Regions from separate parts of the Homo sapiens genome. Here region 2 is linked to region 1. Evidence: fine-mapped expression QTL. Tissue or cell type: whole blood. Region 1 holds a variant in brackets; the other region holds the start of a gene. All regions are shown on one strand. Distances are from middle to middle.

Region 1 (8,101 bases):
ACCAAAGACAGCCTGCAGCCCTTTCTGCATGGGGTGCTCTGTTGACAGGCTTCCCAGATCCCTGAGTCTCTCTTTCCTTCCTCCTCGATCTTTAGTTGTCCACGGTCAATTCAGTGCTTCCATTGGGGGACAGTCCCCTCCGGGATGACCTGATTCACCTCCAGCCCAGGGAATGGAATCTAGAGGAATACGTGGGGTGGGTCTGGACAAGGAGCGGCAGGAATCACCACCCATCTCCAGCTGTGGAGCCCTGTGGAGGGGAAGGGGAAGCTTGGGGTTCAGAGGGGACTCTTCCAGGAGAGGGGTGCCCAGCGGAGGTAAAGATGATAGAGGGTTGTGGGGGGTCTCTAGTTGAATGTTTTGGCCCATGACTTTGGAACATGGCTGGCAGCTTCCAGCAGAAGTCACGCTCCCCATCCCCCAGGGGACATAGGACCTTTTTCCTGCTTCCTGGTCACTTTCAAAGAACTATTTGCGCAATCTGTGGGTCTGTGGATTCACGGGGCTTTCTGTGTGGGTGCTGCAGTTGCTTTTGTCTGCAGCAGCAGGACACATCTTTCCTCTTACTCAGCCCTTTATGGCCCATGGGGAACTCCGTGGCTCAGGGAGAGCTGAACTCCAGGGGTGTGACCTGGGACGGGTGGGCCTGAGGTGCCCAGCTCAGGGCAGCCAGGTGGCTCATGGGCTGTAGTGAGCCAGCTCCCTGGGGGAAAAGGCTGTGGGCCGTTAGGACCATCCTCCAGGACAGGTGACCTCTATGAGGTCACCTACGGCTGTGGCCGTGCAGGCCTCCTTCCAGCCCAGAGTGGCCCAGTAGAGCAAGGCAGACAGTGACCTCCACCCCCGCAGCCCTCTTAAAAGGCCAGTACTCTTGGGGGTGGGGGGAGGGTTTAGAAAGCATTTGCCCATCTGCCTTTCTTTCCCCCAGCCCCCACCCGCTTTGAATGTAGAGACCCGTGGGCACTTTTCCTTTTGTGGTGGGGGGTGCGGAGGAGGTACCCCCACCCCTGGCACAGCCGCCTGGAATGCAGGACTGTCACTGCTGTTCGGGTGATGACCTCGTTGCCAAGCTCCTCCTGTCCCCTTGTTCTGGGGGCAGGCGCTGTGCTTCTGTGAGGTGGTTTAGCTTTTGCTTTCGAAGTGGCCAGCTGCGGCCACCAGGTCTCAGCACAAGAGCGCTTCCTTTGCACAGAATGAGCTTCGAGCTTTGTTCAGACTAAATGAATGTATCTGGGAGGGGTCGGGGGCACGAGTTGATTCCAAGCACATGCCTTTGCTGAGTGTGTGTGTGCTGGGAGAGTCAGAGTGGATGTAGAGCGCGGTTTTATTTTTGTACTGACATTGGTAAGAGACTGTATAGCATCTATTTATTTAGATGATTTATCTGGTAAATGAGGCAAAAAAATTATTAAAAATACATTAAAGATGATTTAAAAAAAAGAAAATTCCTGGGCATTTGATTATTCCTTCTGGTGGTTGTCAAGTGCATCCGTCCACCAACAGACTTTGTGCGAGCAACAAGGCTGTTTATTTCACTTGGGTGCAAGTGGGCTGAGTCCAAAAAGAGTCAGCCAAGGGAGATAGGGGTGGGGCAGTTTTATAGGACTGGGGTAAGCAGTGGAAAGTTACAGTGAAAGGTGGTTAGCTATTGTCAGCAGGGGAGGGGGTCACAAGGTGCCTGTTGGGGAGATCATAATACTCATTGTCCGGAAGAAGGTCACCAGGTCGATCAGTTGGGGCAGGGCAGGAACAAGCCATAATGGACCTGCAGGCCATCTGGATGTATATGTGCAGGTCACAGGGGTTACAATGGCTGAGCTGCAGCTCAGAGGCCAGACAGTGGTGTCCCCACTGTGCTGAAGAAAGAGCTTCAGCCCCTGGCAATGCCTGGGGTTTAGGTCCCAGGTCTGCTGGTCACCGGCCATAATCTCGGACAAGTCTTTCCCTTCGCTGAGACCCCAGATGGACAGAGAATTCACTGAGGTGACGGGAACAGGAAACTGCGGGTGTCTCTGGGTGAGGCCATCACCATGGTCCGTAGTGTGTCATCAGAGGCCTGGAAGTGCTTCTGGCACCTTTTATCTGCTTCTCCCCAAGAGTCCTTTATTCCAGAACCTTGGAGGGGTGAGCATCGCAGGTCTCTGCAACGGCAGATTCCGGATCGCAGGACTGTCATGGGGCTAACGCTCACCTACTGTGTGTTCAGCCAAGCTTAGCACACACATCTGAACGTTGAGACAGGTGGTCAGAGCCAAGGGCAAGTCCTGGGAGCACGTCTGCATTTCAGTGCATCATGGGCTGCAGGACAGAGGCTAGGCTGGAGCAGGCAGGGCTGATGGTGGGGAGAAGAGTTAAACAGTCTGTTGTAGCCATGCAGGTGGAAGGGGATGGTGGCCGCAACTGTGGACATGTCAGTGAAAGAGAAACAGATAGACTGGGGATAGGTTTAGGTGGTGGAAGCGTCAAGATGTGGCCACTGAATTGATGAAAGTGAGGGATCAAGAATATGCCTGGGACCTGGCACAATGGCTCATGCCTATAATCCCAGCACTTGGGGAGGCTGAGGTGAGCGGATCACCTGAGGTCAGGAGTTTGAGACCAGCCTGACCTATATGGTGAAACCCTGTCTCTACTAAAAATGCAAAAATTAGCCGGGCACCTATAATCACAGCTACTCTGGAGGCTGAGGCAGGAGAATCTCTTGAACCCAAGAGGTGGAGGTTGCAGTGAGCCAAGATCGCCACTGCACTCCAGCCTGGAGACTCCATCTCGAAAAAAAAAAAAAGGGGGGGAGGGGGATATTGGACACAAACACATGCTGTGAGATGACTGTGTGAAGACAGAGATGCCATCCATAAGCCAGGAAGAGAGGCCTACATCAGAGCCTTCTCTCCAAGCTCAGAAGGAACCAACCCTGCTGACCTTTGATCCTGGACTTCAGCCTCCACAACTGTGAAAGGATACATTTCTGTTGTTTAAGCTTCCTGGTCTGTGGGAGCTTATTATGGCAGCCGTAGCAAGCTGATGCAGCGTCCATGAGAACAGAGTCTAAGGCAGGGACTTGGGTGCAGGTAGTTTATTTGGGAGGGGGTTCTAGGAAGCAAGAGTGGAGACAGGGCCAGGGGAGGAGGGAAAGCCAGGGTAAGGGCACATTATTGAGGTGGGTGCTGTGGGAACAGGAGTTTGATTCCACCTGGACTTTCGGGGAAGGGTTCGAAACGCCTCCCGAAATTGTCCGTCCAACTGGGGATAGGAATCTATAGCCACTCTCCCATCCTTCCCATCCCATTACTGAAGCTGCTCTGGCGTGTTGACTTCGTGCACTTCTCAGCTGGGTCCATGCAGAGGCCAAGGCACCCCCACCTGGCATCCAAATTACCCACTAGGCAGAAAGTGAAGACTGGACCCTGGCCATGGCTAAAGGCAGAGATGAGGATGGCAGGGTGAGAGCTGAGCAAGTGGAAACACCTGGCAGAGGAAGGCGTGGCCGGGCTGGTTTCACTGAGTTCAGAGTGTGTGTGGGTTGGCAGTACAGGCAGCTCTAACACAGTGTCATACACCAGAACACAGATATTCATTTCTCACAGTTCTGGGGGCCGGGAAGTCCAAGACCAAGATGCCGGCAGATACAGTATCTGGCGAGGGTCACCTTCTCACTGTGTCTTTACCTGGCAGAGAGAGGATGCTTTGATGTCTCTTTCTTTTCTTCTAAGAATGCTAATACCATCATGGGGGCCCCACCCTCATGGCCTCAAGTAAATCTAAAGACCTCTCAAAGGCCCCACCTCCAAATAACGTCACACTGGGGCCTAAGGCTTCAACATAAGAATTTGCGGTGGGTGATGAGAGGGTGGACACACACACAGACATTCAGTCCATGATACAGGTGTTGAGGTAGAGTGGTCCCACAAGCAGTTCACAAACAGTTCTGAAGCTTAGGGGAGAAAAACACATTTGGTAGAATCGTGCAGTGGCACGATTTCAGCTCACTGCAACTCCACCTCCCGGGTTCATGCCATTCTCCTGCCTCAGCCTCCTGAGTAGCTGGGACTACAGGTGCCTGCCACCACACCCAGCTAATTTTTTGTAT[C/T]TTTTTTAGTAGGGACGGGATTTCACCATGTTAGCCAGGATGGCCTCAATCTCCTGACCTCGTGATCCACCCGCCTGGGACTCCCAAAGTGCTGGGATTACAGGCACAAGCCACTGTGCCCAGCCTTTTTTTTTTTTTTTTTTTGAGACGGAATCTCCCTCTGTCATCCAGGCTGAAGTGCAATGGCGTGATCTCGGCTCACTACAACCTCTGCCTTCCAGGTTCAAGCGATTCTCCCGCCTCAGCCTCCTGAGTAGCTGGAATTACAGGCACGCACCACCATGCCTGTATTTTTAGTAGAGACGGGGTTTTACCATGTTGGTCAGGCTAGTCTCTAACTTCAGACGTCGTGATCCACCCGCCTCAGCCTCCCAAAGTGCTGGGAATACAGGTGTGACCACTGCGCCCACCCTGTTTTTTTTGAGACAGAGTCTTGCTCTGTTGCCCAGGCTGGAGTGCAGTGGCACGATCTTGGCTCACTGCAACCTCTGCCTCCCAGGTTCAAGCAATTCTCTGCCTGAGCCTCCCTAGTAGCTGGGATTACAGGCGCATGCCACCACGCCCGGCTAATTTTTGTATTTTTAGTAGAGAGATGGTTTCACCATCTTGGCCAGACTGGTCTTGAACTCCTGACCTCATGATCCACCCACCTTGGCCTCCCAAAGTTCTGGGATTACAGGCGTGAGCCACTGTGCCTGGCCTAAACTTTTTATTATGAAAAAATTCAAACATGCAGAAGTAGAGGCAGCAATATAAAGACCCTCATGCGCCACTCACCCAGACTCCACCATCCTCAGTGCTACCCCACACTTGCTGGGATGCAGATGCTGGGGCCTGGGCACATAGTGGTAGATAAAGCCACGGGTGGGGGAAGGGTCAGAGGAGGAAGAAGGCGATGTGCCTGTGTTTGGTGGTGGGTAGATTTATGCATGCCTGCCCCCAAGACCAAGGGAGGCAAGAGACCAAAGACAGAGGCTGACAAATCCAGTTTCTGAGAAAGAAACATTTAATGGGGACTTAAGAACAGAGGCCGTGTCTCCGGCAGCTGAGAGATGGCAGATCCCCGTAGCCGCCCTCCAGAAAGTGTTCTTTATATAGCAAGCTTTTAGGGTGAAACGTGTAGCTGGTCATGTCTTCAGACTTTGTTGTCAAGACTCATGAGCACTGGGGAGGCTGGATAAGCATCTTTACGAGGGGTCATCTGTGCGATGGGCATTGTTTAAAGACCTTGCTGCAGGACACATTGTTATGCAAGGGTCAGACACCAGTCCTCCTGGCGGTTACGCTTCAAGGTGGCGTCACTCTTGCTGTTTTCCTATAGCACGCTCGTGTATGTGTGTGCGCACGCATGCACGCACATGTGTATGCTCATAGGTGGTAACATGAGGGCTGATTCTGCCTCGTCCTAGTTTCCTGCACTGGGGGTAGAGTCTGGCTCTAGTCGATTGCTGGCAACTCCTTGGTGGCTCCCTTTAGGAAGTGGAGCACTCAGGGCCGGGCGCAGTGGCTCATGCCTGTAATCCCAGCACTTTGGGAGGCCGAGGCGGGAGGATCACCTGTGGTCCGGAGTTTGAGACCAGCCTGGCCAACTTGGGGAAACCCCGTCTTTACTAAAAATATAAAAATTAGACAGGCATAGTGGCGTGCACCTGTAATCCCAGCTACTTGGGAGGCTGAGGCAGGAGAATCACTTGAGCCTGTGAGGCGGAGCTTGCAGTGAGCCGAGATTTTGACACTGTACTCCAACCTGGGTAACAGAACGAGACTCTGTCTCAAAAAATAAATAAATAAAATAAAATAAAATAAAAAGTGGGGCACTCAGCATGCTTTGTCTTTAGCTTTAAGCCTTAACCCAAGTTCTGAATCCCCAAGAACATGTCATGGCTGGGTGTGGTGGCTCAAGCCTGTAATCCCAGCACTTTGGGAGGCCAAAGCAGGTGGATCACTTAAGGCCTGGAGTTGGAAAGCAGCCTGGGCAACATAGCGAGACCCCGTCTCTATGAAAAATGAGAAAAAATTAGCTGGGTGTGGTGGCACCTCTAGTCCCAGCTACATGGGAGGCTGAAGCAGGAGGATTGCTTGAGTCCAGGAGGTCATGACTGTAGTGAGCTATGATCATGCCATTGCACTCCAGCCCAGGTGACAGAGTGAGATCCTGTCTCAAAGGAAAAAACGAAAAACAAGAAAAGTCTCAGAATTGCCCTGGTACACGTGCTCAGTATAGCTCTTGTGTATGTTGTTACCTGCATGCTGACAACGACTCTCTGAGGTAGGTACTATTGTTGCACCTGTTTCTGTGAGTGGAGACAAGTGGTTAGAGAGGCTGCGGTTAGTTACTCAAGGCTACATGGCTAGGACGTAGCAGAGCAGAGACTTGAACCTGTATCTGGCACCAGACACCTCATGACTAATCCTTCTACAGCAGTTCTCAAACTTTTTGGTTGCTGAATCCATATACATTCTTAAAAACTGTTAAGAACCCCAGAGAGCTTTTGTGTATGTGGGTTATAGCTATCAATATTTATCATATTAGAGGCCAGGTGCAGTGGCTCACGCCTGTAATCCCATCACTTTGGGAGGCCGAGGCAGGTGGATCACCTGAGGTCAAGAGTTTGAGACCAGCCTGACCAACATGGTGAAACCCCATGTCTACTAAAAATACAAAAATTAGCCAGGCGTGGTGGCAGGCGCCTGTAATCCCAGCTACTTGGGAGGCTGAGCCAGGAGATTCACTTGAACCCAGGAGGTGGAGGTTGCAGTGAGCCGAGATCCCACCACTGCACTCCAGCCTGGGCGACAAGATCGAGACTCTCTCCAAAAAAAAAAAAAAAAAAAAAAGTAATGGCTTCATTATTTTTTAATGAATTAGATATTTTTAAATTTCTCATATATATATATATATATATATATATATATATATATATATATATATATATATATGGTTTTTGTTTTGTTTTTTTTTTGGAGACAGCCTTGCTCTGTTGCCCAGGCTGGAGTGCGGTGGCGTGATCTCGGCTGCAAACTCTGCCTCCTGGATTCAAGCCATTCTCCTGCCTCAGCCTCCCGAGTAGCTGGGAATACAGGTGCCCACCACCACACCCAGCTAATTTTTGTGTTTTTAGTAGAGATGGGGTTTCGCCATGTTGGCCAGGCTGGTCTCAAACTCCCGACCTCAGGTGATCCACCTGAGCCTCCCAAAGTGCTGGGATTACAGATGTGAGCCACCGCACTGGGCCTGAAGCCATTACCTATTAACATAAGTAACACATTTTATGAAAAATATATTTTCCAAAACAGAAAGATTCAGTGAGGAGAGTTGGCGTTGCTTTACTCCCCGCCGTGTCCCCCCCACGCCCCGTTGCCTCTTTTTTGTTTGGCTTAATAGTTAGGTGGATTATCATATCTCCTGCGTAAAAACCTGTTGCAGTATTGCATGGCATGCAGCCTCTGGAAAATTCCGCAGTTCGTTGTGAGAACATGAGAGCGGGAAGACAACATCTTAAACATGATGATGAGAACCGTGGACCTTACAGGCCCTGAAAAGGCTGGGGGCACACTTGGAAGCCACCGTCTTCTTCCCTGTAGCTCGCCTGGGCAGGTGGCCACAGCTAGCCATCTGAGGCCGGTCCGTGGTCCATTCCTGGAAGGCGTGGCTTCTGGCCGGTGCCCCGGGAGAGCTCATTGCGTGGAGATCCCCTGTCAGCGCCCCGCTTCACAGTCCCCCACGCTTCACCGTCCACCTCCCAGCTTCACTGCCCTCCCCCGCCCCCCTCCCCGACCCCCTCCGCACCCCCCCATCCCTGGCCGCTTCACTGTTCAGTCCGGATGCCTCCTGGAAAGAAAAGCCATACAGCACGAAGGAAAGCAGGCGCGGGAAAGTTCCTGTGAAGCTGGAGGGGAGGGGGCAAGAGAGAAAAGCTGCAGAAGGAAAGAGGAAGGAATGCAGGCACTAGGGGAGAGGAGGGGACGGCGGTCGCTGGGGTCAGGGGAAGGCGGACGCCTCTTCCACTG
Region 2 (8,101 bases), 25 kb before region 1:
TAGTAGAGATGGAATTTTGCCATGTTGCCCAGGCTGGTCTTAAACTTCTGACCTCAGGTGATACGTCTGCCTTGGCCTCCGAAAGTGTTGGGATTACAGGCGTGAGCCACTGTGCCTGGCCTATTTTCTCCTGTACCTTTACTCTTGCCTTCCTTTCATTTTCTTTGGTTTATTCTGCTGCTCTTTTTCTAGCTTCTTGAAACGAGCGCTTGTTCATTACTCTCAGCCTTTTCTCTTTACTAATATAAGCACAAAAGGCAATAAACTTCCCTCTAAGAAGCGCACTAGCCATAGCCCAACATTTTTACTATGTAATATTTCTATTGTCATTCAGTTAAAAATATTTTTTTCATGCTTAAAGGCAAATGTATTCAGTTCCTTTCCATGCAGCACACAATAAGTTTATCTATGTGCTTATTTCTTTTCCAAATCAACAGTTTGAGACAACCTTTCAGGGTCTGCTCATCCTCCATGGCGAGTCATCTTGCAATGTGATCTGGTAAGTGTCTTGCATGGGGGAAAAGGAACCTTCTTGCTGACCTACAGATTGGCCACATACGGGGTGTATGGGAGGAGACCTAACAACTATTGCCTCTTCTGCCACCATCAAGCTCATGGTAGGGCCACATTAACTTTTTTTTTTTTTTTGGAGACGGAGTCTCACTCTGTCACCCAGGCTGGAGTGCAGTGGCGCGATCTCAGCTCACTGCAACCTCCGCCTCCCGGGTTCAAGCAACTCTCCTGCCTCAGTCTCCCAAGTAGCTGGGATTATAGGTGCCTGCCACCACGTCTGGCTAATTTTTTTTTTTTTTGTATTTTAGTAGAGATGGGGTTTCATCATATTGCCTAGGCTGGTCTCAAACTCCTAAGCTCCGGCAATCCACCCGCCTCGGCCTCCCAAATTGCTAGGATTACAGGCATGAGCCACCGCACTTGGCCAAGGGCCACATTAACTTGTACCAAGAGATGCTTATAGAAGCCACTCGGATTTGCTACAGCAGGGAGGAAGGCACAGGAGAAGAGGAGAGACTTGATGTCCTATGATGGAGTGTAGAGACTGCTGGATGGAAAAAAAACAAGAACAATGAAAATAAGGTCATCTTCCTTAGGATGCCATGCCAAACAGAAAGCCTCCGAAAAATCCCCCAGTCACTAGAACATTCTTCACAAACGACACCACCTCCTCAGCTTTGCTCCTGACCTTGGTAGGTATCTGATTGCTCTTAAGGGATCTTCAGCAGCTCTTTGGCTTTCTTTATATCTTTCTCCACTCGTTGCCAGTCAACTTTGATGTACCCAGTATGATTTGCAAGCTGAAGGAGAAAAAAACAAAACACCTCCCACAACTGTTACAGCCAACTTTCCAACCTTCTGGGATATGAAACCCGTGCACCATTCAGTGACACCCCCAATGAACGGCTGGGTTGCCACCCTTCACTTTTCGGGGAAGGTCCAGATTCCTGCCTGAACAGCTTACACCACCATGGCTGTTTCTTAGCAAATTCCACAAGGTCCAGCGACTCAAAATTTCCCTCAAAGTTTGCTTGACTGGACTCGGCCATTTCATCGAGCTTGTCTTGCGAGGACACACGCAGAGGATCCGCGCTGTAGGAGGCGGAGTGGCACACAGAGTCATCACCACTGGTTGGCTTCCAGCACGAGGGACAGATTTCCATTCCCACGGCGACAGCGGAAGAGCAGTTAAAAATATTTTATAATTTCCATTACAATTTCTTTTTTTTGAACCGCTAGTTAACATAAAAACGTACCTCTTCCGTGGCTCATGCCTGTAATTGTAGCATTTTGGGAGGCCAAGATGGTTGAATCACCTGAGGTCAGGAGTTCGAGACCAACCTGGCCAACATGGTGAAACCCCACCTCTACTAAAAAGACAAAAATTAGCTGGGGGTGGTGGCGGGTGCCTATAATCCCAGCTACTTGGGAACCTGGGAGGCAGAGGTTGTAGTGAGCCAAGATCGTGCCACTTCACTTCAGCCTGGGTGAAAGAGCAAAACTCTGTCTCAAAATAAATAAATAAATATAATGAAAAACAAAAACAAAAAAACCCATACTTCTTACTTTCCAAACATATGGGGCTTTTGAAGTGAACTTTTTATTATTCATCTCTAGCTTATATGTGTTGTGGTCAGAGAATGTATTCTGTTATTTCTGACTTTTGAAATTTATTGAAATGAACTGTTTTTGTAAGTATTCCATGTCTTGTAAAGGGGAGTATTTTACCATGGTAGATAACAGTGTGCTATGAAGTCCATTAGTTAAGTTTATTAATTGTGTTCAAATCTCCTATATACTATTGAATATTTTTCTTCTTCTCCTACCACTTATGGAGGGGTGAGTGTTAAGATCTCCCACTATAATTGTGGATTTGTCTATCTCTCCATCTAGCTGTCTTCTTCATGTTTCTTATATTTTAAGATGATTTGCATACAAATGTGAAATTGTTCTATTTTTCTGGTGAATTGGACACTTTTCATTATGAAATGACCTTATTTATCTCTAGTGATGTTTTTCCCTCGATATTAAAATAACTGCACCAGCCTTCTTTTCGTTAGCATTTGCGTGGTATTTTCCCCCCATGTGTTTACTTTTGACCATCACTAGCTTTATGTTTTGGAAGTGTCTCTTGTGGGTTTCTCTTGTAAACTGCATCTAGCTATTTATGCATTCTGATAATCTTTGTATTTTAACTGCAATATTTAGTTGCATTTATTGAATCACAAAATATTCGAATTTATAGCTATCGTCTATTTGTCCCCTCCCTGCCCCGTCTTGTATTTATTTTTCTCTCCATTCTTGCCTGCTTTACAGTTGTTTGGGTTGGTTTAATCATTCTTTTTCCTCCTCCAATAATTTGGATAACTATACACAGTATTTCCAGTCCTACAGTGTTTATCCCAGTAATGACAATCTGGATTCTTAAATTCGTCAAAGTGTATTTGGTATCTATCTTCACCTTCCTCCTGAAGAATATAAGGATCTTAGAACACTTTAACTCCATTCACCCAAGTAAATGCCATCACTGTTGTGTATTTTAAATCTGTTTTTATCCAGAAGTCATTGTTATTGTTTCACACTATCGCTGTTCTTCATTTTTCTTTATTCCCAGTTGCATCAGACCTCCGTCTGGGATCATCTTTTTCCTGCCTGAAGTTCCAGCTTTGGAATCTCCCTCCGGAGGGTCTACCAGTGGCAAACTCTTAAGTTTTTGTATTTGTAAGTGCTATGATTTCACCTACGTTCTGGATACATGTGCCTCATACTGGGTACATAATTCTTGAAATACATTTTCACTGAATATATAATTCTAAGATGATGGTTATTTTCTCTCTGGCTTTGTTGCTCTTGATGAAAAGTCAGGTGTGAATCTATTATTCTCTTTTTCTATGTGCCAGAAAGAGGTGTTGGATTTTATTGTGAGGGAAATAGGGAGGAAAATTTTTAAGCACAGGGTGACCCCGTCAGATCTGCATTTTAGAAGCACACTCTGGCACTGTGTGGCTGAGATCGGAGGGAGGGCAGCTCCGCGAGGTCTCTGCTGTGGTCCAGAGAAAAGACGGGGCGAACCTGGGAGGTGGGTGCGGTGAGGGCAGGCAGACCCGAGTCCCCGAGGGGATGCCGGAGCGACAGAAGTTGGGGTCAGTACAGGAAGGAGCAGGGACGACGCCGGGCTCCCAGTGAGGAATGGAGGCGCGTTAGCGAAAAAGGAAGGGGGGTGGGGAATCAAGAGTTCGTCTCGTGCCACAAATGGTTGAGCCCCCACTAAGCACCTAGCGCCCAGTACACGCGGGTTTGGGGAAGGCTGGGGCAGCGCGGCGGCAAAATCCGTCCCCGGGGGACCTCAGCTCCACCGCGGCCGCTCCTGCCGCGAACGAGGGCCCGGCCCGGGAGCCCTCGAGGCAGCGCCCGCGTCTGACCCGTGCGTCTGGGCACCGACCACCGAGGGTCGGGTGGATGGACAAATGGAAGGGCGGATGGAGGGGTGGGTGGACGGACGTGGAGACACTGGCCAAACTGCGCCGCGGAGAAGGCCGGATTAGGGAGACCTCGGCCCTGCGACGTCCGGACACGGTGGGAAGCCTTTTGGGTCCCGGCTCTCCTGCAACTCGAGGGGCTGCGCCTCGGGCCCAGTCTCCTCCGCTGCGGGAGGTGAGCAAATGGCCTCCCCGCTCTGAGCCTTGACTTTGTCGTCGGCTCCACTGGGCCCTGCCACTTCGGCCCCTGGCAGTCACCGGGAGGCTATGAGGCGCCCGCCTGGGTATTAAGGATCACGTCCCGCCCCGGCGTCACAGCAAGACGGGGCGCGCGAGCCTCCGCCCCGCCCCAGCCGGTGACCGAGCCAAATAAGTCCCACGGCAGCGCTCGCGGCTCGCGGCCCGCGGCCCAATCGCAACCCGCGGGGGCGGGCCCCGGGGGCGGGGTTCCGATGGGGGCGGGGCTCGGGGGCGGAGCTGACCCTCAGGGCGCGAGCCGAGCCCGCGGCCGTTCCGCGCGCTCCCGCCCCGCCCCCTCCTTGCGCGCGCTCGCTCGCTGGCGCCGAGGAAAACGTTGCGCAGGTTCAAAAATGGAACGTCGGCGGCGTGAGGGAGCGCGAGGGGGTGTGCGCGCGTGCGCGTGCGCGTGCGCGCCCGGACGAGGGTGACGGGGACCCCGCCAGCCCCAGCATCGCGCGCCGCAGCCGCGGCCCCGCAGCTCCGCCCCCGGCCCGGCCCGGCCCCGGGCCCGCTCGCCCGCCGCCCCGCATGGAGCTGTCAGCCATCGGCGAGCAGGTGTTCGCCGTGGAGAGCATCCGGAAGAAGCGCGTGCGGAAGGTGAGGCTGCCCGGGGGCGGCTCCCAGGACCCCAGTGGGGTCCCTCCCGTCCCCAGCACCGCTCCCTCCACGCTGGGGCTGAAGGGGAAAGCGGGGCGCGGGGGCCCCGGCAGCCCTGCGCTGCTGGGCCCGTCTCCCCAGCCCGTGCCTCAGTTTCCCTGCCACCGTGTAGGGCGAGTAGAACAAAAGTTGTCGCTCCAGGATGCTAGTGGCGGCCGAGCCTGCCTGAGCTGGAGATTAGGATCGGACGTAGGGATCCTCAGCGCCATCCCACCTCGCTCCCCTTTTATTGTAAATATGGGGAGACTGAGGCCCAAGTTGAAAGGACTTGCCTAGCGCGTTATGGTCAGAGCTGGGTTTTGAACTCGGGACTCTGGACGCTTGGCACCAAATCCTTTCAAGTTGTAAGTGGAGCTTTGGAAAAGTCTCCTCCGGCCTCTGAAGTTTTTCCTGCTGGACTTTGGCCTTTTCCGATCCTGCCCCCTCTACGCCACCCGAGCACATCCCTATTCCCCGCCCCCACCCCCACCTCAACTCCTAGCCCAGGCCAGGGCTCTGAAGCCCGCCCCCTGCGCTGGGGCATCCCCTAGTCTCCTACCCCATCTGCCTTCTTCAAAACATACACCCTGCAATTTAAGGAGGTGTCTGTTCTGCTGGTTTCAGAACCCCACACTTTGGGGCTAGACTTTGTCCGGGCCTGGCGTCTACACCTCCCGTGCACTTGTTTGGCGAGGGGGCTCGCCTAAGGCTGGGGAAATCCTTGGGGAGAAGTTCCTTTCCTGGTACGCACTACTGTCCTTCCTTTGTCTCCTCCTCCCTGCAGCCCTTTGGGAGGCTCCAGGCCGACTGGGAGGGGCCTTAGGGGGTCACCTCCTCCCATTTAACAGAGACAAAAACTGAGGCCCAGGCAGAGGAAGTGACCTGCTCAAGGTCACCGAGCAAGTTAGATAGGGAGGTAGAGCAGGAGCTCAACTGGGCTGATTGGCAGCCCATCTTCTTTCTCCATAGAGAAAACTCAGTCCTGGCATCTCGGGCCAAGGGTGAAGGTCAAGGTGGTCAGGAGCATCTTTTCTTCCTCCAGCTGTGCTTGGGGTTTTACTCTTCTGATTGAGGCAGCTGTTCCTCCTCCTTCTCCTTTTTCCTAGGGTTTTCTCCACTTAAAAGAGAATTGATTTATTCCACAAAGCTCAGTGCTTTTCGTGCTGTGTAGCCTGAAGCAGGCACAGCACTAACTCCCTCTACGATGGAGCCCGCAGGGTAGCACAAGAGGGCGAGATCATCATTCCTTCGGCCAGTCACTCAAAATATTTATTGAGGGTTGGTCAGGTACCAGGCACCAGTCTAAGCCCCAGGGATCCACCCCTTCCCTCAGGGAGCTGGCATTCTGCAGAGGCGGCACACAGTGAATGAGGAGATACAGACAGATGCCTTCAGATGGAGCTGTGTGCTCTGCAGAAATAGAACTGCAAGGTGCCAGTGGAGACAGCATGGGAGAGGGTCACCAGGGAAAGCCTCTGTGAGGAGGTATCATATTTTGGTCTTAAAGTTCTGGCGTGCAGGGGCTTCACTCACAATGGGGTTGGACTGTAAACTTTTTTTTTTCTTGGCACCAAGATCTCACTCTGTCACCCAGGCTGCAGTGCAGGGGCATGAACATGGCTCACTGCAGCCTCAACCTCCCCGGCTCAAACGATCCTCCTGCCTCAGCCTCCTGTGTAGCTGGGACCACAGACAAGTGCCACCATGCCCAACTAATTTCCTTTTTTCAGAGACAGGGGTCTCACCGTGTTGCCCAGGCTTGTCTCAAACTCCTTCCTGGGCTCAAGCGATCTTCCAGCCTCAGCCTTCCAAAGTGTTGGGATGACAGGCTTGAGCCACCGTAACTGTAAACTTTTAAAGCCTGTGAGGAAGGGAGGGGCCTGGCTCTACTTTCTAACAACCACAGGGCTGACCACCCCTTCTGAAGGTGGAGACTTTGCCAGTCTTCCATGGGGTCCTGCCAGGGTCTTTTGAGTTGAGAGTCCTCAAGTCACTGGCCCATTACCTCTGAGCCAGAGGCAGCCACTCACAGACTGAAAGGGGACTCAGCAGATGGGGGAGGAGCGTGGGGACTACCCCAGAGAGGAATGTTTTCGTATTTGGAGACTCTTCCAATCTAAAAAAGAAAGTAAGCGTTCCCACCTGTGCACTGGGGCTCTAGACACTGTGGGTCTTTGGCCACGCATGCACACCTCCATGCAGTCTCAGCTCCCAGTGTGTGACATGAGCCCTGGGCTTGGGCCTCAGGAGCCTCAGAGGTGGCTGGAGCCAGACGCACTCCTGTGCTGTCCTAGGGAGGGCAGTATGGGGCGGGCATGCAGCAGTCGCGGTTATATGGGTTGGCGAGGATCTGGTGGACAGTCCCCGGATTGTGTTTGTGTGTTGGGGAGACACCTGTCTGCAGATGGGATTTGGAGCTGGGCTCCTTTGGGCCTTAACTGTCCTTCCGAGTGGCTGTAGGGGCAACCACGAGACTCACTGTGTCTGCTTCTCTCTCTTCTCAGGGTAAAGTCGAGTATCTGGTGAAGTGGAAAGGATGGCCCCCAAAGTAAGCTCCTTCATGTGTGTGTGTCTGTCTGTCTGCCTACCGACCCATGCATTCCTCCACCTGCCTTTTGCCCCCTCCCCTGCCTAGCTTTTAGCTCCAGCTACTCTTGTAACTGGACAGCTGACCTTGATTTAATCATCATCTTCTCTGGGCCTCAGTTTCCCCCTGGACCACAGGAGGGTCAAGGTGGGTCTCCAGCTTCTCTTCTCACCCTGCCCTCCTGAGTGTTGAGCTCCTCTGCTAGTTGGAGCTTCTGCTCTCCCTCCTCCCCTCCCTGTGGCTTTTCTTGGCAACTGGGAGGTGAAGGCCCAGCATCCGGGCTACTGGAGATGGCTGCTGGACAGGAGGAGGGGACCCCAGCTGCTTTAAGCACAGTGCTGCATGAGTCCTCAGTGCTGTGTGGCCAGGGGCAGAGCCTGAATCCCCCTCACCTCTAGACGGCACTTTCCAGTCTATAGAGCAGGTTCCCATACAGCTTTGTAAGGTAGGTGTGATCAGGCGCTCTCAAGGTGAGGAAACAGGCTCAGAGAGGGTAAGCAGCTTGCCTTAGGTCACACAGCAAGTGGAGGCAGAGTTGGGACTTGAACTAGGCCTTCTCCTTTTCAGGTGTCTCCTCTGTGCCTTCCCAGCCTCCCATCTCGGAGTTGGGAGGCAGGGAGCTGTATCTGAGACCTCCCAGCTTCTC

The links. PIP is the estimated chance that this variant, and not a neighbour inherited with it, causes the effect.
Region 2: CBX7 starts here. The variant in region 1 is fine-mapped to the expression of CBX7 in whole blood (INTERVAL, PIP above 0.99).

What each region holds. Positions count from the first base shown.
Region 1 is chr22:39,124,116-39,132,216 of GRCh38, reverse strand. It overlaps CBX7 (chromobox 7), which reads left to right. Exons shown (of 6, transcript NM_175709.5): 6 at 1-1,445. Among named protein-coding and RNA genes, the nearest start is that of CBX7, 25 kb to the left of the region's middle. RefSeq lists an enhancer at 230-791 and a silencer at 3,519-3,568. The variant C/T (reference allele first, on the strand shown) is at 4,091.
Region 2 is chr22:39,149,104-39,157,204 of GRCh38, reverse strand. CBX7 (chromobox 7) reads left to right here and starts at 4,525. Exons shown (of 6, transcript NM_175709.5): 1 at 4,525-4,829; 2 at 7,373-7,416. The coding sequence starts at 4,761. It also overlaps the pseudogene FUNDC2P4. RefSeq lists silencers at 4,219-4,788, 4,859-4,908 and enhancers at 4,366-4,947, 8,027-8,101, 7,983-8,101.